3 linked regions of the Homo sapiens genome follow. The protein of the gene in region 2 interacts with the protein of the main gene of each other region in a pairwise test. Each region holds a gene or a part of one and is shown on either strand. Other genes may lie near its edges.

Region 1 (8,463 bases), on a different chromosome or scaffold from region 2:
TAACACATATATATTTTTAAATGACCTATACAATAAACACAAGGGCATAAGAAATGATGAATAAGACAGTGCTTCTCAATCCCATTTACTTTTGGCTATATTTTCCAAGATTTTCAGAGGATACACTTCTTTAATCAGTGGCAACTACTGATGTGCCAGATAGCTTGGTGGTTAAATGTATCACCACTATCAATTATTGACAAAATTTTTCACAATACTTGGTTTAGTAGCAAGGATATTTCAAAATTTATCTTATCTTTGTGGAATGGATTGAAGAGAGAAGATAGCCTCCTTCACTTCTATAAGCAATTATGGGACTGTTTGGCATTGATAAGAAAGCTGGGTGTCCTTTAATTTCTTTATTGCTAAAGCCAGTAGGGTAGACCATAGTCTTTGTAAACCAAGGCATCATACACAGAACTAATTTCAAGTTGGGTAGAATTCTTGTCATTTGGCTGAATCTTTAATTTCTCGAAGAGATTCACTATGATTAAGGAATTGAGAAGGGTAATTGGGCACCCCTTGGAGCCTTTGAAACAAATTTGATTTAAACTCCCCACTATGGACACAGGTTGTTGAATTCAAGGGATCAACATATCTCCTTGGAACAAGGATGTTCAAACCACTTAGGAGCAGTGTATAAAAAAGTACATTTTCTCTACTTACAGGCATATCTTAGTCAATATTTGCCTTTTAGAGCAGATGTGCCCAGTGCCTTAAAGGGGGGCCATTGGGAAGACAGGAAATTGTGAGTTCTGGGTTTCTGGCTTCTATAGACTCAGCTGAGATGTATTTTCTTTTTCAACCCTTCTAAATGGCTGGGCCTGGGATTTTCCCAGTCAAATTCAAAAGCTAGCCATGAAGAAAACTAATTTTAAGACATAAACAAGTATTTTAACATAACATCTAAGACATAAACAAGTATTTTTAAATGTGTCTTGAATGTATTCGTATCACCTCATTAAACAATGTCAGAACATGGCCAGAAGCCAGGAGTTGAAGGAGCCGTTGCTTAATGAGATAGTAATGAGCAAACATCGAAGCTTGCATTTTCCTTCTGCTTGTTCCAAAATGCATGACTTAGCGGGATAAGATATTTGAGCTCCAGCTCTTAAATAATTTTAAGATATTTCTTAGGATAGTTGCTTTTCCTTTTAGTGTTTGATTGTGTCAAGAAGTAAAGGTTAAGAAATGTTATTTTCCCCTTTATTGAAGCCGTAGGGTGTAGTGGTTAGTAGAGTAGTAATTCTGCTACTAAATAACTGTGTGACCTTGGACACAGTGTGCAATAAATGCCAGTTATGATTATGACGTATAATTGAGGAAAAAATAAGGATTTGAATAGACAAATTTCAAGTTAGGGAATAGGAAAATTTTTATACAAATGCTTTAGTAGGGATGTATTATTTACTTTAAATATTAGAAATTTGACTACAATAAATTGACTTTAAACCACTTGATAACATTTGCTGCATTTTGTTAAACCAAAAAAATTTAATATTTATCAAAATGAAATTATTATAGGTGCTGATCTTGTTATTGAAATTTCTGGTTTATTTTACTAACTTGAATCAAAATATCTCTTTAATTTTGATAACTTTATAGTCAGTTCAAGGGTAAAAAGAATGAACTTTTGATGACTCAGTTACAGTTCCAATCAGACCATTTAAAGGAAAATGAGAGATTTATCTCTATATATAGATGAAAGATTTATATATACATATATAGACTAACTTGAATTGAAGGTTAGTAGAGTAAGTGAGAGAGCTGGCCAGGCACAGTGGCTCACGCCTGTAATCCCAGCACTTTGGGAGGCCGAGGTGGGCAGATCATGAGGTCAGGAGATTGAGACCATCCTGGCTAACATGGTGAAATCCCATTTCTACTAAAAATACAAAAAATTAGCCGGACGTGGTGGTGGGCGCCTGTAGTCCCAGCTACTCGGGAGGCTGAGGCAGGAGAATGGCGTGAACTTGGGAGGAGGAGCTTGCAGTGAGTGGAGATTGTGCCACTGCACTCCAGCCTGGGCAACAGAGTGAGACTCCGTCTCAAAAAAAAAAAAAAAGTGAGAGAACCAACAAAGTATAATAATAAAAGTAATAATAGTTAACATTTATTCAGCATTGTAGACAATCAAGCATCTAATTTTTACAACTCAAGGAGGTAAGTATTATTATAATCCCTATTTTATAGGTAAGGAAACTGAGGAACAGATGTATTAAATTGCTTGCTGAGGTCATGTAGTTGATAAACAGAGCTGAGATTCAGGTCCAGGTAATCTGACTTTAGTGTCTGTGCTAAAATCTTTCTAAAATATAAAAGCATAAGCTAATGCTTGCATATAATAGGATTCTAATAAGTTGAAATTATTTAACAGAAATTGCCATACTGTGGCATCTTTATGAGTTGGGGAGCATTAATAAGGTAATTACATTTTAACTAAAAGTTAAGAAGAATAGCTAACTTTAGATTTCTTAATGATATTTTGCTATAAACACTAATTCTAAAACAGAGCTGTCCAAAATGTCACATATATAATTTATAATTTTCTAATAATCATGTTAAAAAAGTGGAAAGGAACAAAAGTTAATGATTTTAATAACATCTTTTATTTAACTCAATAAATTCAAAATATATTTTAACATGTAACCAATATAAACATTATTAATAAGATATTATTTTTTTAAAGTTATTGTTCCAAGTCTTTGAAATCTGGTGTGTATTTTGCACTTACTGAACATACCAATTCAGTAGCTAATTCATATGTGGCTAGCAGTTACTGAATTAGACTGTGCAGCTCTAGATCTTTTTAGGAAAGCAAATTCATTATTTTAACCTCATTTCAAAAATGGTGAGAATAAGAAAGACTAGTCATGTATCCACACATTAATTTTTAAGCTTTAGTATCTTCAGTTTCAGTTTAGCTAAACAGACTAAAAGCTGCCACTTAACCTATTCAAATGATATCCCCTGGTAAGTAAGGTGGCACATTTTAAGATGGTTTCCTGACAAGTCTTTTAATTTTCTCCAAGAGGCAGAATGGAAGCAGACCTTAAGATAAAGCTAAACCTCTTTTGGAAAAATGAATGTCTGGAAGAATGTCTCACAGAATAACGCAGGACCAGGTCACTAAGCAATGCTCTAAGTGGGGACACAACGTGGACTTTTCCAAGCCTTCAGCTGAGGGCAGGGATGGCCAAGTCAATGGTCCCTCCCTGTTCTGTATTCAGTTTTTGATCAGGCAGTAATGTGCATGCAGGTCAACAAACATTTATTAAAGCTTTTTGTTTTTGCTTCTTCATTGATAAATTACTAATAAATGCTCATTTGAAAAAGCCAAACAAACCAAATATGTGTACTAAATTGTACATCGTAAGAGGTAACTGTCCCTTCAATTTTTTTTGTAGTTAACAGGTTACCACTTCTAGCAATTAGGTAGGCATTCTTATAGACCTTTATCCCTATGTTTTTGTTCTGTTCCTATATATCCAGTTTTTTTGTACAGAATGGGATCACCCACACATACGGTTCTGAGCCCCCCTTTTCCATTTAATAAGAAATCAATATCTATGAATTTTATATATTTTATTCTTATTAATGGATGCATAGTATTACATGGTATGAAGTGCCACATTATTTAACCATATCACTATTGATGGGCATATAAGTTGTTTCAAACATTTACTATTACAAAACTTCTGCAATGCATATCCTTTTATATCTATCATTACACATTTGTGTGTTTCTGTATGACAGATCTCTAGAATTGAGATAGCTGGGAGAAATGTATGTGCATTTTGAATTCTGGCAGGTATTGCCAAATGCTTAATGGCCTGCCAAAAAGACCTTGTCTTTTGACTTCATCTGGAATATTATTGACTTCATTCAGAATATTCCCATTACAAGAAAGTGGCCAGTCTCTCCGAGGAACAAACTGTTTTCCTTTTCCACCATGAAATAGATCTTATCTTTTCATTAGTTAATATAGGTGTACCTTCAAATGGCAATAACATTGTTCTGCTTTGTGGCTTCTCAAGTAGTAAACCCAGAAAACATCAGCTACCGTGGATTTTATTATAAATCATTGACATTCCTTTGGTGATTCACAAATGCCAAAAAATAAATGTCATGTTCCCCAGGGTTTGAAGAAAGACACTGTAGCTTTTGGATTCAGCAACGGATCTTTCAAGAAAACAGTATGGAGGGATGACTCACTCCCCCCATGGAGGCTGCCCTCTAGTTCGTCCTTTAGAGGAAGCATGACCAAGGGTCTGCTGGTACTTTTCTCTCCCTCTCTAAGAATTTCCTCAGGAGAGGAAAAAGTTAGCTTTCTTTTCTCTGCTCCTGAGTGCCATGGCCTGCAGTACGTGACCAGTCCTTGGCACAGAGTCACTCAGGGCTCATGGTAGATGCTTAGCGGTCACAGCCAGTAGCTGCGCAGTGTGGCAGCAGCTGAGATCCATACTGCAGCCTGAAAGTTGTGTTTCAGCTTCTGAGGTTACAAGTGTATCCAGTGTTTACATCAGAGATAAAGCCCCCTTTCCCCTCTCTCCTACGGGAGCCCTCAACAAGACAGATACACGGGTTGGGTGGAGTGAGACCACATCCAGCAGAGGCAAAGCTTGCTAAAAGAGAGAGGAGGAGGAGGGGGAGAGGGAGGAGGCGGCACGGCGTCCCTTGGCAGCTCCGTGCATGCTGCGGCAGTTGCAACAGGAGAACCGAGTACCAGTTGCTCAACACTTTATCACTTTGCATTGCTCTTTCTCCTCCCTTAAGTGAATTTCCATTTTGAGGGTACAGCTCCACAGGAGAAAGGTGTGGTGGTGGTAGTGGTGGAGGGTGTCTGTGGGGGGGATGGTGGTGCGACGGGAGTTGGAATGTCCAGTGTGGGGAAGCAAAGGAGTGCCTACTAGGATGCGAATACCACTTGGCCCTGGGCTCGCTCCGCTTTAGCCTTCCCCTCTCGCTGGGGAGAAACAGGCGGTTTGTGAGGGAGACTGAGAGAGGGGCGTGTTTGTGGTGGTGGCGGCCCATCGGGGGTCCTTGTCCTCTCCGAATACCCGGACTGCTGAGGGGAAGGGCCGGGGGGGCCCCGGCGGTTGCCATGGTGACGCAGGGTCGGCGGCTCAGCGCCGTAGAGACAAAGCCGCCCGCCCGCCAGCCCGCTAGCTCCTCGCGCGAGCTCCTCCTCCACGGGAACCTCCCTCCCCTCCCAGGCGCCGCCGCAGCCGGAGCGGCTCCCGGGCCCTGGGCCGCCGCCGGCCAGGTAAGGCGATCGCGCCCGCGGCCGGGGAGGGGTCGGCGGGACGCCGGGCCTCCCCAACGCTGGGGCAGCAGCCAGCCCCGCAGTCCTGGACGGCGCCGGGCCGCCCAAGCGCGCCGAGGAGAGGGGGCGGCAAACTTCGGGCCGAGCGGCGCCGGGGCCCGCGCGCGGAGTCTCCCTCCGGGCACCACGGGGGCCGCCGTCCTGGCACCAACTTGAGGGGCTGTGCGGCGGAGGGCGGCTGCGGAGCGCCCGCGCGGGCTGCACCTGCTCAGGGAGCTGCCCCTCTGTTGTTGTTGTTATTTTCCTTCTTGGCGTGCCATCGAGGCTTTTGGGGGAAAAAAAGGTATGAAAGTATTTACCTTTGGACTTTCATGTTTCATGGCATTCTCTTTGAGGAGGGGTTGGGAGGGTAGTAAGAGGGACAAGCGAAAGATTTTTACGAATCTCTGAAAAGTGAGCCCATTTTTATGCCTGTGGCTGAAGCATTTTGAGGAGGCTTCTGAAGTTCGTTTGGATATTGAATCGAAAGACCTTTTTTTCTTTGGAAGGTGCAGTTGCACCTATAACTGGATGGTAAGGGTAGCCCGGCTTTCCCCGACTAGCAAGACCAGAATGTAGAGCAGTACCGATACTTTGTCAAGGAGATACTTGGCACCGAGGTCATTGCTTTTGTTTCTAGAAGGTATTGTGTTCATGCTGTAAGGAACTGGAAAGTGCCTTTTGTTTTTATGTGTAGGGAGGCAATCCAAAGCACCTCTGGAGGCAGGTAGCTGGGCGGTGTTTGCATCGGTGTTTATGAGTGGGATGATGAGGACCACGATGCGGTTGCCACTGGGGCACTGGATAGGTTATAGGTACCTTTCTCAGTGGCCCCAACCCTTGCAATCATTTCGTGATAGTTTGTTGCAGACGCGAAGCACAGATTTAAATTGTGACTGTGAAGACTTTTTTTTTTGGTACTTAGACATCATCTTACATGTAGTAATATGAAAGAAAACAGATACATTTTCAGAAATACAGTTGATCAATTCAGAAGGAAATTGTATATATGTTAATAAGATTTGTTTTAAATCATATTTAAACAATATGAGATGTCATATTGATAACTGGAAAATAATCTAACATATAAAATTGTATATCCAACTTAGTAAAATAATGTATAAGTTGGAATAGGTCATTTAAAGAACTATATGGAATGCAAGAAATTATATTTTTGCTAGAGAGTAATTAATGAAAACAGTACCACTGATCATTTTGAATTGCAGTTAAGTTGATTGGAATTCTGCATATTACAGCTACTTGAGGTGTCAGGCAAAGAGTGATTATTTAATATTCCTCTTCCCTCTTTTGGGATTTCAACACCTGTTAGCCTGCTGATTACTAGGTTTCTCAGTCTGTTCATATTTGCCAGCAACTTCAAGTAATGCCACTTCATTAGAAGATTGTATTGGAAACTAAAGGATTGAAGTTGCAATTAACAGTTTGCAGGTTATTTCACAATTGGGCTTGTTTTTAAACTGAATTTTACCTGTGGAAGATTCACAGATGCTCTGCTAAATACTCTTTCATGACGGTAATAAAATCGTACATTGATTAAAACGAAGTAGATCTGTTTTGAGAAGATAAACGGGAGAGAAAAGTATTTTCTCACTTAAGCATGAACAGCAAATAGGATATTGAAGCCTAGGCACATTATATAGACAGAGAATGTAGTTTTATGTTTTGTACTAAAAATAAATTATTTTGTGTGTTTGTGTGTGTGTGTGTGTTTTTTTTTTTTTCCTGAGGGACCAACAGAACAGCTTTATTCAGATCTTTGTTAGCAAAACCAGTATTCAAGTTCAAGGACTTGGTCCGTGCTTTCTGCCAGATGAAACCCACACTGTGAGTTCTAGCCTAAACATTTATGTTGTGGCCCTTAATCTGAGTGCTGAAGAACGGAGATATCCATGGTGAATTTAGCACAGTAAGGACCGGTGCTTTGCCTTTGCTGCTAGCTCACACGGGCACAACATTCAATATAGTTTGGCTTCTTCAGAGCTGCATCATTTTCTGCCAAAAAATAAAGTCGGTATACAGAAATCAACAATCATGTATTGCATGCACTGCTTGGTTGTAGTGGCTTATTAATAAGAGCTCCGAAGCATGAAATGAAGCTTGTGTCAGTGCAGTGGAAAACAATAATCTGGCATGTTTATATGTGTTACTAGTGTTCTGAGGTATGTGCATAACCAGATAATGAAAGAAAAAATACTATGATATCTGCAATATGTCCTTAGAAAATGCAAACAGCAATTGTGTTTTCTGTCCATGGTTTAGCCACCTGGTGGAAGCAGGCAACAGCATTGCATATCCCCAGGTGTAAAATACTAGTCATCACTCTTGCTGATTCACGGGAGTAGGAGTCTTTTCCTGCATTTTAGCTTACGGGTTTTAATTTTATGACGTAAAATTGGTCCTAATTTTTGGTATAAGCTGTAAAATATGGCCTGATAATTGTCACCATAGCTGTATTCTACCTGAAAGAATTCTGTAATTCAGTTTATGAAGCATATCCAAAGACAAAAAAAAGCCACAAATGTTCCTGTTTAAGTTAGGATTAACATTATGTTTGTGCCATTGAAAGTCAGTTGTTTGTAACCATATAAGCCTGCATAGGCAGCCTAAATAAAGCCACTGAAGCCTTTATTGACTGTTTCTGGGTCAACATTCTCTTGCAATTTCTAGTTGCACTGTGATAACATGATTACTGGTTGGTAATTTAGCATCTAGTGCAATGTGTTGTAGCATTTATAAAAGCACATTTGTGAAGGATGGTAGTTTTTAAATGATTTCTTCATTACCAAAACACTTAGATTTAGATTTGTGGCTGGGGAGAATAGTGTGGCCCTGAGACCTCAAGACAAAATGCTGTAAATATCAGGTATTGTTAACTGACCTGCTGTGCACAGTGGGTATTTGTCAGAACTACTGTGCTGAGAAAAGGCACAGGAGACACATGGTCATGGTGATAGGTTGTGGTGTTTAGTGACATGGATTATTAATAGTGATTGATAGAAGCTGAAAAACTTTTGTGGACGTGTGTTTCATTTTTCATGTTTTCAATTAAAATGGAGATAAGATGTCTTAAGCTGTTTGGTAAGCCACAAGTGCTTGGGGAAAATGTATACTTTTATACAGTATTGTACATAATTTAA
Region 2 (7,590 bases):
AAAATCAAACAATATGATTTTTATTAGGTTGGCAAAAACTTTTTTAAAAATTACAATATTCAGTATTGGCCAATTTGTGGGAGATAGGCACTGTCATTTCTTACTAGGGAAAATGTAAATTGGTGCAGTCTTTCTAGACTTGCGCTGTCCAGTAGAACTTTCTAGGTCGGTAGAAAAGTTCTATATCTGTGCAGTTCAATACAGTAGCTACTAGCCATATGTGACTCGAGCACTTGAAATGTAGTTAGTGCGATTGAGGAAGTGAATTTTTAATTTTATATAAGTTTAACTAATTTGAACTTTAATAGCCACATGTGGCTACCATACCGGATAGTGCAGACAAGAAGATAATTTGGCGACACATATAAAATGCTTTTAAAAAATGAGGGGTGTTCCTTTCCATCGAGCAATTTCATGTCCTAAAGAAAAAAAATCCAAATAGTCACAAAGAAGTACCTACATGTATGTTTATGGAGGTGCTGTTTATAATAAAAAGCTGAGGATTACATGTGTCTAACAGCAGTGGATTTACTAAGGTATGATATGTGTATAGTATTGAACCTGCATTGCATGTTATACAAGCTTGTAAGCTATTTTAGGAGAAATACATAATTCTTAACATACTATACACTTTTAGATGGAAATGCAATTACCAAACGTCATCTGCGTTATGATTCCACCTGTTTAAAAAGTTAAACACACACATGTGTATGTCTCTATTTACCAATATGGTACTACTATTTGTCTCTAGCAGGTAGAATTTTAAATTTTGTTTACATGTTTTTCTTAATTTTTCTGTACTGAACATACATTACTTTTATATTCAACAAAAATAAGTTATTTTGAATTTGTTTTGAAAATCATGTCAAGTGGGTCTCTAAACAGTGTGCTCACTTCCAAGCCCCTTGCTGTTGTAAAGGATGCTGCTGCTTTTATATTTAATCCTGGAGTAAATGTCTGAGTGCATCATAGGATTCTATGAAGCACATTGGAGACCCAAAAATGCTCCAGGAAAAGAAATGGTGGGGAGACCTTTACAGACATTCAGGTGGATGCCTCTGACTTCCTTTAGCTGTTCTGTTGCTGGAAGAGAAGGATATTTTTGTGCTGAATGAAAAACTTGCTAGAACTTGGTGCGGTAGTGCACACTCCACCAGCTTACCACCTCCATCCAGGCTAATTTATGAGATTGATGAGTCCAGAGCTAGGGGATGGGCCAAAACGCAGTGGTGGCAAACAGACCCCTGGGTGGTCGCTAAAGACATGATCTTCTGTCCTAGAGAGAACCTCCTCACACAGTGCTGTCCAGCACCCAACCACAGCCAGAGTGGAAAGTGAAAAAATGCTGACTCATTTTTTCCTTGGGCTTCTTAGATCCTTTCGCTGGCAAGACACTGTCTACAGTCTGAAACCGAGGGATCATAGGGGACTGAATCCACCATTCTTCTCCCAATCCCTGCAACTCCTTCTTCCCCTGCAACTGGTTCTCTTTTCCCATGACATTAAATCTCAGCTCATTTCAGCTTTAAGCAAGCTGCATCTCTGGCCTGGAGGGAACCCAGATTATACATTTAATGGAACGTCATGTTTTCTCAACCAGGAGCAAAGACTTCATAATGATAACCTAGAAAATACCACAGTAACACAATAGGGCATTATTAGTGGCTTTGGCGACTGGGCTGGTGGACTGGGCTGCACAAGGCTTTATACTGATGGAATTTCATGTTCACTTAAACATGCTTTTCTGGTTATAGTCAGGAAAAATAGATTGCTGGGAATTCAGTCGGGGATTTGAAAAGTTAGATTTGGAAGGCTCTGTTCAACAAAAAGCAAAGAAACAGCTAGCCTCTTTTAAGTCTTCCAGGGGATCTTCCAAGATGAATGCACCCATTTGACCAACCCACAGACATAACTACCTTCCCTCTCTCACAGCACCCCCCCACCCTCTCTTATTACGTATATGTTTATGTATTACATATTGGACTATTTTACATGGAGCTATTAGTCACTTGAATGGAGATAGTGGATTCTGCATCATGAATCTCAAGTGGCTGGCTATGTTATGTGTGCCCTGAAGACTTCAAAAATAGAATGTGGGAAAGAGAGCAGGAGGAGTGGAGATGGTGGTCTGGAAGGCAGGAGTAAACGCTGAGCAGCTTTATTTATAGGACTTGCCAAAGCCACAGCCTGTCATTCATTTTCTGCACCTAATAAATCCTTATATGTCTAAAGGCCCCCCACAGGCTCACCATGTGCTCCTTCCCCGTAAGACCTCCGACTCCCCCTGCCATTTCCCTTCTGTTCGGCACCAGTTTTCTTTTTCTTCCACTGTACAAAGGGATTCCATGTTGCCACTCCCCCAGAGTTCCAACCACAGCACCCACACCTGGATGATGCCCTGCTGGTGCTGATTTGCAGGACCACTGTTATGTGTTGTACTCCAGGGACAGGATCATCAGATAGATTTTTGTAGCATTAGGCTGGAAATTTCCCCATCAGGTATAGTACTGGCTTTTTTCTGGGAAAATATCTTCTGAGTTCCCAACTACTAACTTACAAAAGAAATACTGGATTGGGAACTTGTGTGAGTCTTGCAGACTCATGCTCTCTCACAAGGGTCCCAAAGACAACCTTGTTTGGTAGGTAGGGCGAAGCATGACTGTCCCTAATTTGAAGATAAGAAAACCTTTGTTCAGTCCACTGGGTTAAGTGACTTGCCCAAGGACCTAGGATTAGATCACGACAGAGCTAGGACAGTGTCTGCCCTTGACTCCCAGACCAGCTCTTTCCACTCATCTTCCCTGTAGAGTTGGGCCATAATGAGAAGCACATGGCAATACAACTAGAGGAACTGGGTAGATTCCAGGAATTCAAAATCCCCGCATCAGAGTTTCAGTAAATCATGGTGCATAAGGCGATTAAAGTTACTTAATTGAGGAGCTACTACTCTGCTGTTAAATCAGCTGTAGTTGATGGAAAGTATCAGGAACTCCAACCCCCTGCAACCCAGAGAAATGCTCCAGAGATCTAGGGGGTTAATTGATGAGTCAGACTTTAAGGTGTGTTCAGGACATTTTATTATGATAAATTCGTAATTTGTTCAGACTGAATCTGATAGAAAAAGGAAACTGAAGTCTGTAAATATGCTAAAACACACAGATGTAGCTTATTTTCAGAAATACATTGGAAGATGGCTTAGTGTCTGCAAAATTGGCTCTGAATAAGGAAAGCAAAGAGTTCAATAGAAGGCACCTTGAAGGTGCTACAATCAGATATTTTTTATATTTTTGGATTTTAATTCGTATAAGTCTTGTATATTTATTGTTAATTTCATTCCTAAGTATTTGATCATTTTGGTTATTGTAATGGGAAATTTTCTTCCATTTTAACTTGTTTGCTCTTAGACATATAAAGAGTATAAGTATCTGTGTTGATTTTGTTGTGAATTATTTTACTGTTTCAAATAATTTCCTAGTTGATTCTCTTGGGTTTTCTGGATATATAATTATATAACCTGCAAATAACAATTTTATCTCCTCTTTTCTCATTTCATACTCTAATTTCTTTTTTTCAACTTTTAAGTTCAGGGGTACATACAAACCTGCGCATCCTGCATATGTACCCCTGAACTTAAAATAAAAGATGTTAAAAAAAAGAAATTACATAAGAATGTGTCATGGAGTTTTGTTGTACAGATTATTTCATCACCGAGGTATCAAGCCTAGTACCCATTAGTTATTTTTCCTGATCCTCTCCCTCCTGTCACCTTCCACCCTCCGACAGGCCCCAGTGTCTGTTGTTCCCCTCTATGTGTCCATGTGTTCTCATTGTTTAGCTCCCACTTAACAAGTGAGAACATGCGGTATTTGGTTTTCTGTTTGTGCATTAGTTTTCTAAGGATAACAGCCTCCAGCTCCACCCATGTTCCTGCAAAGAACATCATCTCCTTTTTTATAGCTACATAAAATGCCATGGTGTATATATACCACATTTGCTTTGTCTAATTTATCATTGATGTGCATTTAGGTTGATTTCATGTCTTTGCTATTGTGAATAGTGCTGCAGTGAACATATGCATGCATGTATCTTTATAATAGAACAATTTATATTCCTTTGGGTATATTCTCAGTAAAGTGATTGGTGGGTCGAATGGTATTTCTGTCTTTAGGTCTTTGAGGAATTGCCACACTATCTTTTACAATAATAATTTTAAAGGGCATCAGAAAAATAGTTATCAGGGGCCAGGAATTTCTTTTATTATTATTATTTTTGTATTGAGGTGGACTTAATGCTTGGTTTTAAATGCTCCTCTAATTAAGTTCCACATTTGGAGAAGGCCTTTGAGGCCAGGCAAGAGTTGGTAGAACTGCCTGCAAATTGGATAGTTTGGCATATGGGTCAAAAATAAAAATAAATAAGGCAAAACTGTTTTGTTTTGTTTTGTTTTGTTTTGTTTTGTGTTTCTGTCTGGGTCAGCCAAGTAACTACCTCTACTTTATTTAGCTGTGGAGACCTGGTTAAACTCAGTGTCAAGGAGTGTTGGAGGAAGGCACCTGTCCCAAGATAACCTGTAATTATGTCCAAATGCTAAAGGATTCCTAGTGGTCCAGAAACAAATTCTGGGATCAATTAGGGAGACTTGGCTGTCACATAAATGCAAATGGGATTTGCTCTATGCTAATTTAGAATGTGTGTCTATGTTTGGTATGCGGCCAAGAGACTGGATCTTGCCTCTCCCCCTGATTACTCTGCAATAAAAGACAAAGAGAATATTTAAACATTTGTTGACACGTTTTTCAGACACGTCAGGTTCATACTGAAAAAGTAATTAGATTTCTCCAATTTGACTCAGCAGATTCTTCCATTCATTTGGCATAGATGACATACTCAGTTTTGATCACAAGTGTGTACTCCAATACATGCGTGGATGAAACAATGCCTATTGCAAGCAATGTCCTGCTATGGGAGGTAAAAGGAATGCAAAATAAACAGGAAGAAGTCCCAGGCTGTCAGGTTTTTATGGAGAAAAGTTAGAGGACTCTAGGCAGCCAGAGCTAAAGGCTTCAGTGAGGATTTGGGAAAGGGGCCAAGTAAAGTCAATTTTAGATCAGTAAGAAATAAGAAGTAACATTTACTGAACCCTTGCTACCTGCCAGACGCTATAGTAAACACTTTGCCTGTATGACCCTGTTTAGTGTTTACAACCCCCATAAGGTCTGTACAGTCATCATTACCATTTCACACGTGAGGAGACCGAGGTTTAGAGAGGTTACCCAAGGTCACTCTGAATGGTGAAACTAAGTCTCAAACCCAAGCCCCTCTGACTCATAATCTATGCACAAAGTTAAAAAGAATCTAAATATGCAAAAGAACATTGAATCAATCAAGGTAGGTCAGGTTATGCTGTGATAACAAATAACCCCCGAATCTCAGTTACACAAAACAACAAAAGTTTTATTCTCTGCATATACTACATGTCTGATAGGAGTCAGCAGGGCTCTTCTTATGGTGATGGTTCTGGGAGCCAGGCTGGTGGAGATTCCTTCCTGATACCTCCTGCCACCATCAAGGCTGCGAGGGAAGAGAATGCTAGATGATGTCTTGCTGGCCATGAAATGCTCCAGCCAGAAGTGACGTGCATCCTTCTCCTCACAGCCTGTTGGTCAGAACTGGTCAGATAGCCTCACTTTATGGAAAAAGACTTGAAGAATAATCCTCCATGTGCCTAGATGGAAGGGAAAGCCAGATATGGGTGGACAATAAAAGCTTCTACTGAAAACGTATAATTATAGCTTGCTTTGGCTTGAATAAGCAAGAAAGAAGTAGCCATTGAGAGAGAATAAAGAGATAAGACTTCTGGAGAAAGGTCAGTTTTGAGCCAAGTCTTGGATATACAGCATTCATCAACCTAGAATTACTGTCAGACGTGATGTTTCAAATATGCCCAAGAGGCAATGATAGCTCCTTCTCTTTTCCTCCCTTCCCCATTCTCTGCATACTTTAGATGAAATATTCAGTGAGGTGGGCGGGGGATTAAATTAGATTAAATGGAAAGTAGAAATGGAGATTAGACATGCTCTCCTGCCACCTAAGTATTACATGAATATATTTGAAAGATAAAACTCTCTTTTTCCATAGTTTATGGAATACGAGGGAATTTGAAAGGCTGGGGAAAGACAGCAGCCCATGGAACACAGACCACTGCAGCAGCAGAGCTCAGAGGATGCCTGTACACTGCAGGGGCTGATTCTGAGTTTGAATCAAGAGTATCTGGGCTCCTACTAGTGCTTCTCAATGAGGGTGCTGTTAGCATTTTTGATGGGACGGTGTTTCATTGTGATGGACTGTGGGATGCTTTAGCATTCCTCATCCTTGCTTTCTAAATACCATTAGCCTTTCTGGTCATTGTGATGACCAATAAATAACAGCCTCTATACTTATTTCTAAGGTTGGTACCACCTTGGTTGAGAACTCCTGACTAAAAGAAGGCAGGGCAGAGCAGGGTATGCCATTGATGTTGATTCCTAGCATCCAAGAACCACATCTGGGCATTTGTCTGAAGGAAGAAATTGGGAAGCTTCCATGATAAAAGCTCCAGTGGAAATTGTAGACCTTGGGAATGAATATGCTAAACTGAGGTTCTCAACCAAGGGCCAGATCACAACTTCAGAGGCCTGAGGCAGACGTGTATTTTGGAAAAGCTTCCCAGGTGATTCTGATTCAGGTCCCTCCCTCAGTGAGTCATAAGACTGAACAGGAAGACAAGAAAAGTTGCCCCATAATGATGGCTCATGGTTATGGCCTTATGATGAGGATATAGCTGAGGCAGCACACACCTTGGAGCTGGGCTATAGGCAGAGCTCTTATTTTAGATGGTGGCAGAAGAAACCACACACAATATGAAGGCAGAAGAGCAAAGGTCACTGAGAGGCCATGTTTTGCCCTTCAGTGTTGCCAGGTCCTGCTGTGTGTACATATACATTTAAGCCATGTTGTTTACTAGCCAGGACACTCCTTTGCTTCCTTTCTCATAAGTCTCCCTACATGAAATGTGCCTCATGGGAATGCTTAACACAGGGCTTAAGAAGGCCACCTTCGGAATCAGGCATCTGCAGCTTTAAATATCAGCTCAATGCTTCAGCAAGCATTGTGACCTTGGGCAAATTATTTAGCCTCTCCGAACTTCAGTATTGTTAATAAAATAGGCATTAAAATGTCTGCCTCACAAAAGTGTTGTAAAGATTAAAACCTTTAATTAACCATTTGGCACATGAGTGCTGAGACGATAGATGGTGATGGTGATGGTTATGGTGGTGGAGGTGGACGTGATGATAAAGATGATGGTGATGGTAGTGGTGATGGTGACAGTGATAGTGGTGATTATGGCAATGTTGATAGTTGTGATGAAGATGATGATGGTGATAAGGATAATGGTGATGGTGGTGGTGGTGATAGTGATAGTGATGATGATAATGGTAGTAGTGATGATAGTGATGGTGGTGGTAGTGATGATGGTGATGGTGATATGGTGGTGGTGGTGGAGGTGGAGATGATGATGATGATGATGATGATGGCAGTGGTCATGGTGGT
Region 3 (7,590 bases), on a different chromosome or scaffold from region 2:
ACCCTTAAACCTGTCTCCCCTGCTTACTCTGCCTTGCCCATTTCCTCCTGAGGAAACCAGAGGAAGTCTCTTGCCCACACGTTCCCCTCCCTCCTTCCGCCTTCTGACCCACCGTGGGGCTTTCCTATGTGGCCCCTCCTCTCAGAACCGTAAGTAACAAACTCTCCTTTCCATGGCAGTCCCCTCCTCATCCAATGGCTTTACCACACCTCGATGAGATGGTTTACAACAGGCCCATTCTAGAAGTAAACATTATTCCCAGAAATCCTGGAATAGGGATTCAGAAAATTCACATTGTGGAGGTGCCACGACTCGGGAGAGCCTGGCCAGCGAGGTGCCACCCGAATAGCTCCTGACCATGGGCACAGAAGGGACCAAACATGGAGAGAGGCACAGCCTGGAGTCATGGAAAAGGACCAGGCAGGACAGGAGGAAGAGCCTGGCAAGGAGGCAGGGGCGCAATAGTGCCCAAGCAGTGTGGGCATTAGGAAGAGGGCAGAAAGAAAACAGTGCTGTGGCACAAGACCGGGGCAGCCCCGGGCCAGCTCAGCCATCCAGTTCTTCCTTGACACTGATGTGCAAGGGGCAGATGCGCAAAGGCTCTGGAGGCCCGGCGCCCCGTGCACCCCCCAGGTAGAAGTAGGGGCGAACCTCCCCAAAGCGGGCGTGGAAGGTGTACAGGTGGCAGTGGCGCTCCGCGTCATAGAAAGACAGCTCGCCCTCCTCACACTCCAGCTCCACACGCAGGCGGCGTGGGATGGCCAGGACCAGGGGCGACGTGGCTGGGTCCGAGGTCACGCAGTGGTCCCCCTCCACGCCCTGCGTGCGGCAGACATACCAGAAGCCCGAGCGTGTGTCGTGGTAGCAGCTGTGTGAGTGGCCCTCAGCGCCCGAGTCCTGGCGCACACGTACCACGCCCACCCTCCAGCTCTGCAGCCCCCCAAGGGCCACCTCCCAGGCGTGCGAGCCCTGTGAGAAGACACGGGAGCCCAGCAGGCAGGGCGCCGAGGAGAAGCGTTCCGGGTTCTCCACCTGCACGCGGTAGCCATGGTTGGTGACGCTGGTGAGGTCGTCAGACACGGAGAGCCAGCCAGCTGCGGTGTTGGGGTCAAAGCTGAAGGGTACTGCAAGCAGAGGCGGAAATGGGGAATCAGCAAACCTGAGGTCCCTTAGGCCACACGTGGATATCTCCAGCCCCACAAACCAACCACTGTGTCACACCTGGCCCCAAGTCCATGCAAGGAGTGGCCCAGGGCTGGAGTGGTGGCAGGGGTTGGGCTGTATCCCCCAGAAGATATGCGGCAGTCCCAACCCCTGGTACCTCCGAGTGTGACCTTATTTGGGAATGGGGTGGTTGTACACATATTAGTTAAGATGAAGACTGGAGGAGGGTCCCCAATCCAATATGACCTGTGTCCTTAAAATAAAGAGGAGACAGACACAGATACACAGGGGAGAATGCTGTGTGATGGCGGAGGTGAGGATCAAAGTGCTGAGGGGGAGCCAATAAGGCCAAGAATGGCCAGGAGACACCAGGAGACGGAAGAGGAAATGAAGACTCTCCTCTACAGGTTTCAGAGGGGGCCTGGTCCTTCCAACATCTGGATTTTGGATTTCTACCCTCCAGAACTGTGAGAGAGTCAACTTCTGTCATTTTCTAGTTTGTGGTCCTTCGTTATGGCAGCCACAGGAACTCATACAGGCAGAGACTCTTAACACTCACACGACCAAGGGATGTTAGGACAGCACGGCCCATTCCCTGAGTCAGTGATATTCCTCCCCGTAAAACCAGGACACTGTGGCTCATGTGGGCTGCAGTCGCCTTAGGAGAGGCAAGCCCAGATGCAGGAGGTCTTTTATCATACAAAACACAGTTCTGAATAGGCAAGAAAGCCAGTTTCCCTCTCTGAAGAAGGGACCAAGTGTCAGGACCCTGAGAGAAGGCATTCTACCAGGAGGGTTGGAGGTGTTGGGCAGAGTGGAAAAGACCAGGGTACAGGAACCTGCCTGCGAGGGACTGGCAGAGGGATCAGCTGAGAGAGGAGGGGAGCTCTGAGGAGGTGGGAGGTGGGCCCGGCAGAGACCAGCCCTGGTGCCTCTTTGCTAACATGAAGGGCTTCCACCCATGCTTGGGACACCTGCCGGCACCCCCGCTCACCAGATTCCACAGATGCAAGCATCTTCTTCCAGACGCGGTACTGCAGGGAGCCCAGGTACTTGCAGACATCGATAAGCATGCCGGGCTGGACTGGCTCTGGCTCCATGGTGCAGAAGAGTCTGGAAAAGTACAATGGGTATGGTGGGCAGGGCCAGAGCCATGCAACCTGGGCCGAACTGGGCCAACTGGAAACCAGCAACAGGACTTGTTCCCTTCCCTCAGGCCCAAGTTTCCTGGCCACCTTCTCCAAGACAAGACTGGACTGGGCTACGATGGGAGATGGGCCAAGGCCAACAGGGCTGCCATCTCCCTTCAGCATTCAATCCGAGGGCTCACCCTGCCCCAACTAGGAGAAATACAAACAGGAGGTTCTCCAACATGGCTGCCATCCTTGCAGGCAGAAATCACACTTACACATCCGGCTCATGGGATGTCTGAGTTGGAAGGGACCCTAAGGATGCTCTAGTCCAACAATCCCAAGGTGTCCTCCAGCCTTTGCTTGCACACTGCCAGTGGGAAGTGAGCACAGGGAACTCACTCCCTCCAAAAGCACTCTATTCCATCTTTGCACAGCTCTGACTGGGACACAGCTCTTCCTCATTCATCCCTGTGAACCCAACAACCATCAACACAAACCACCATGGCCTAAGGCTCTCAGAGGGAGGGGGCTGATCAAGAAACAAGCCTGACATTGACTGGCCCCGAGAAATGCAAGCCACATGCAGGATAGTGTTCTCCTTCCCTGCACGGCAGGTGGGGACCCTCCACACTCAGGAGAACAACACTGCCCCAGAGCCAACTTGAACTGGATGCTGTGAGAGGGCTCTCTCCACCTGGCCATTGTCCACCTCTCCCTCTAAAACCAGGGCCAGTAGCTCATGTGTGCTGGTGCACCCAGCTGGTTGTTACCTGCTTGCCCCGGGGCCACTGGAGTTTGCACCCCTGGTATTTCTGCCCACTCTTCCCCTCCCCTCCACCAGCTTTGGCAACTTACCGGCGTTTTCGGCTCTTGTGTTTCTGAAAAAATAAAAATAAAAAAATAACACAGAGACACAGATGTAGAGGAAATGTATATGTTTCTGACCTCAAAAGAAGTCATGCATTCCATGGATCATAAGTCTTAATATTGTCAAGATGTTAACAATAACATCCCTGCTATGATTTGAACATATTATCCAAAAGTTCATGTGTTGAACACTGAATCCCCAATGCGACAGTGTTGGGAGGAAAGGCCTAAAAAGAGGTGATTGGGTCATGAGGGCAGAGCCCTCACAAATGGATTAATACCGTTATTGTGAAGTGGTTTAGTTGTCATGAGACTGGGTTGCTATAAAGCAATGAGCAACTACTCTGTCTTGCACTCATTTCCTCCTTCTGCCATGAGATGACCCACACCAAATGCCAGAGCCATCATGCTCCTGGACTTCCTGGCCTCACCCAGAACACTGAGCTGAATAAACTTGTATTGTTTTATAATTTACCCAGTCTGTGATATTCTGTCATAGCAACAGAAAACATAAGAAGAGACTCCTTAAGTTGATCTACTGATTCAGTGCAATCCCTTATCCTAGCTGGCTTCTTTGCAGAAACTAAAAAACTGATCCTAAAATTCACACAAAATTTCAAGGAACCCAGAATAGCCAAAACCATCTTGAAAAAGAAGAACATTGGAAGACTCATAATCTCCAATTTCAAGACTTACTACAAATCAACAGTAATCAAGATAGTATGGTACTAATATAAAAACAGGCACTGAGATCAATGGAATAGAATTGAAAGTCCAGAAATAAACCCTCATATTTACCATCAATCAATTATTTACAATAGTGCCAAGATGATTTAATGGAGGAATAGTCTTTCCAACAAATGGTACTGGGAAAACTGTATGTTGACATGCAAAAAAAAAAAAAAAAAAAAAGTGAAGTTGGACTAACCCTTACTATACCATATACAAAAAAAAAACTCAAAATGCATCAAAGACCTACATGAAGAGCTAAAACCGATAAAAAACTTGTATCTAGACTATATAAAGAACTCTTACAACTCAACAATAAAAAGACAACCCACATTAAAAATGGGCAAAGGATGTGAATAGACATTTGTCCAAGGAAGATCTACTAATGATCAAAAAGCCCATGAAAAGATGTTCCAAGTCATTAGCCATCAGGGATGTGATGACATGCAATACACAAGGAGATACCACTTCACACCTACAAGGATGGTTATAATTTTTAAAAAACAAATTTTGGCAAAAATATGGAGAAACTGGAATCCACATACACTCCTGATGGGAATATAAAATGATACAGTTGCTCTGAATAATGGCCTAGCAGTTCTTCCAATAGTTAAACCTAGAGTTACCATTTGATCCAGCAAATCTACTCCCAGACATATTTCCAAGAAAAATGAAAACATGTCCACATAAAAATTGCTACCTGAATGTTTATAGTCATATTATTCATAATAGCCAAAATAGAAACAACCCAAATGACCACTGTCTTAGTTCATTTTGTGTTGCTGTAACAAAATACCACAGACTGGGTAATTTATAAACAATAGTTTATTTCACTCGTGGTTCTGAAGCTGGAAAGTCCAAGAGCATGGCACCAGCATCTGATGAGAGCCCTCATGCTGTGTCATCCCATGGCAGAAGGAAGAAGGGCAAGAGACTACACATAAGACCAAGAGCAAGAGAGCAAGAGGGGCCCAAACTCACTTTTATAACAAGCCCACTCTCTCAATAACTAACCCACTCTGCCAGTAACAACATTAACCCATTCATGAGGGCTCTCATGACCCAATCACTTCTTATTAGGCTCCACCACCCAACACTGTTGCATTGGGGATTAAGTTTGTAACACATAAATTTTGGGGAACATATTTAAACCACAGCAACCACCAATTGATAAATCAATCAATAAAATATAATATAGCCATGTGCAACGTAACGATGTTTCAGTCAACAAGGAACCACATATATGACTATGGTATGGTCCCATGAGATTATATCACTGTTTTTTACTGTACTTTTTCTATGTTTAGATATACAAATACTTAACAGTGGGCTCCAGTTGCCTACAGTATTCAGTGCAGCAACGTGCTGTACAGGTTTGTAGCCTAGGAGCAAAAGGCTATTCCATATAATCTAGGTGTGCAGTAGGCTACACCATGTAGGCTTCTGTAAGCACACTCCATGACACTTGCATAATGAAGAAACTGCCTAATAATACATTTCTCAGAACATATCCCCATCACTAAGAAGTGCATGATTATATATCTATGCCATGGAATATTATTCAGCCATAAAAAAGAATGAAGTACTGATAGATGCTACAACATGAATGATGTTTCAAAATATGCTGACTGAAAGAAGGCAGTCACAAAAGGTTACATGTTATATAATTCCATGCATTTGAAATGTCTACAACAGGTAAATCCATATAGATAGTATGTAGACTAGTGGTTGCCAGGGGCTGCTAATTCTAGTAATTACCACTCTGTTAGACTCAATTTCGGTAGCAGTTTTTATGTGGGAGGAGGAACTGGGGAGTGACAGCTAAAGCAGGGCTGCTTTTGGAGGCATGAAATGTTCTAAAATTGTCGTGATGGTTGCACAACTCTGTATATACTAAAAATCACTGAGTGGTACATTTTAAATGGGTGAATTGTTTAGCATGTAAATTATATCTCAATAAAGTTGTTAATAAAAAATAAAAAAGAGTCACAAACCAAAATCATCCCTGAAAGCACTCTGAGTACTGGGCAGACAATACTCCCAATTCCCTAAACAGAATCCTCGAGACACACAGCTTTTAGATCCCACAAAATGATTTTTCTTTTTCTTTTTTTTTTTTCTTCATTTTTCTTTTTAGAGACAGCTCTGAACACAGAATGATTTCATAATCAGGGACATTTTTGAGACAGGAGACTTCATGGTTCCAGGCTTTGAGTGAGGTGGAGAACTCCTAAAGGACCCACCCAGGAGATGACACTGCCTGAACAGATAACTGTCCCTGTCGCCTCCCACTCCACTCTACAGCGACACCCCTTCCACAGCAGTCAGCTGTTTTCCAGGTACAAGAGACACCTCACCACCCTGGCCAGTTTACAGACCAGCTTTCGAGCCCAGAAATTTCCCTGTAGGAAATTTGTAAGGACCACTGGCTCATGGGGAGGAAATAAATCAATAAAAGGAAAAAAAAATGAATAATACTGTTTTTTTAAAGAGAGAATGGAATCATCCTTTTCTTAAGAAGACAGAAAGCCAAGGCATTATATTTAAATAAAAAATTTAAATAATTGAATGATTTTAAAAGAATTCATCTTATTAAAAGGTAGAGACCGGAAAAAAAATGAGAGTAAGAGAGAGGGCAAGAGAAAGGAAGAAAGAAGAGACAGGAGCTGGGCACAGTGGTGCGCCAGTAGTCCAACTACCTGGGAGGCCAAGGTGGAAGCATCACTTGAGGCCAGGGATTCAAGACCAGCTTGGGCAACATAGTGAGACCCCCCTCACCCCTACCTGACTGGTAAAAAATGAAAAAAATTAGTTGGGCATGGTGGCTCGTGCCTGTAGTCCCAGCTACTCAGGAGGCTAAGGAGAGAGGATCACTTGAGCCCATGAGTTTGAGGTTACACTGAGCTATAATCACCCACTGTACTCCAGCCTGGGTGATACAGCAAGACCCTGTCTCTAAAAAAAAGAAGAGCGAGGAAGAAATAACAGGGTTTCAAGGAACTCCGCCCTGATAAGTCTTTTTAGTTTCATGACACAAGCAGAGCAGGTTACTTGTGAGCTCCTCCAGGCCAGTACCCAGGAAGCTCCAGGAAGATGACGTTGGCCAGGGCTGGTGGGCTATGGCTCCCAGCTGGTCCTGGAACATGTGGCCCTGTCACTGAATCCAGACGCTGAGCTCCTTACCATGAGAAAAGAAACGTCGTCCTCCTTCATCTCCATCTGCAGCCGCTCGATCTCATGTGCCAGCACCTCCGTCTCCTCTGTGAGCTGCTTCATCTTCTCGTCGGCCAGAAGTTGCTTCTGCCTTGTCTCCTCGGCCATGGCATCCAGAATGGCCTGCTCCTCCACTCTCAAGAACTCGCGAAGCTTATCAAACTCCTGCCGGATCCGGCCTTCCAGCCATGCAGCCTCCACCTACGGAAGACAGCAGGAGGAGTCAGGGGTCAGATGTGGAGAGGACATCCATAGCCCAGCAACTTTCCCATTTTTAGCAAAGGAAATTTATGTTCAAATAAATCATGTATAGAACCCCTACAGATAAAATATCAACATAATAGTTTATAAGCACAAATTTCTAAGTTCCGATTTCAAATGGGAAAGTCCAACAACCTAATATTAGATTGTTTTGACAGGGTTTTTAAAAATAAAATCACAGCTTATATAGATGGCAACTGTAGTACTATAACCTCATCTACAT

What was found. Proteins that work in one complex are often made in the same cells at the same time.
Region 1: the proteins of ANTXR1 (region 2) and RNF182 interact in a two-hybrid assay, tested with the Homo sapiens proteins (one study listed by BioGRID).
Region 3: the proteins of ANTXR1 (region 2) and TRIM35 interact in a two-hybrid assay, tested with the Homo sapiens proteins (one study listed by BioGRID).

What each region holds. Positions count from the first base shown.
Region 1 is NC_000006.12:13,919,758-13,928,220, forward strand, and holds the start of RNF182 (E3 ubiquitin-protein ligase RNF182), read left to right. Parts: upstream 1-5,194; 5' UTR 5,195-5,266; intron 5,267-5,347; exon of another isoform or gene 5,348-5,609; intron 5,610-8,463. UniProt on the Homo sapiens protein: E3 ubiquitin-protein ligase that mediates the ubiquitination of ATP6V0C and targets it to degradation via the ubiquitin-proteasome pathway.
Region 2 is NC_000002.12:69,015,969-69,023,558, forward strand, and holds part of ANTXR1 (anthrax toxin receptor 1 isoform 1 precursor), read left to right. Parts: intron 1-7,590. UniProt on the Homo sapiens protein: Plays a role in cell attachment and migration. Interacts with extracellular matrix proteins and with the actin cytoskeleton and thereby plays an important role in normal extracellular matrix (ECM) homeostasis.
Region 3 is NC_000008.11:27,287,004-27,294,593, forward strand, and holds part of TRIM35 (E3 ubiquitin-protein ligase TRIM35), read right to left. Parts: intron 7,308-7,590; coding exon 7,077-7,307; intron 3,176-7,076; coding exon 3,153-3,175; intron 2,278-3,152; coding exon 2,159-2,277; intron 1,125-2,158; coding exon 547-1,124; 3' UTR 1-546. UniProt on the Homo sapiens protein: E3 ubiquitin-protein ligase that participates in multiple biological processes including cell death, glucose metabolism, and in particular, the innate immune response.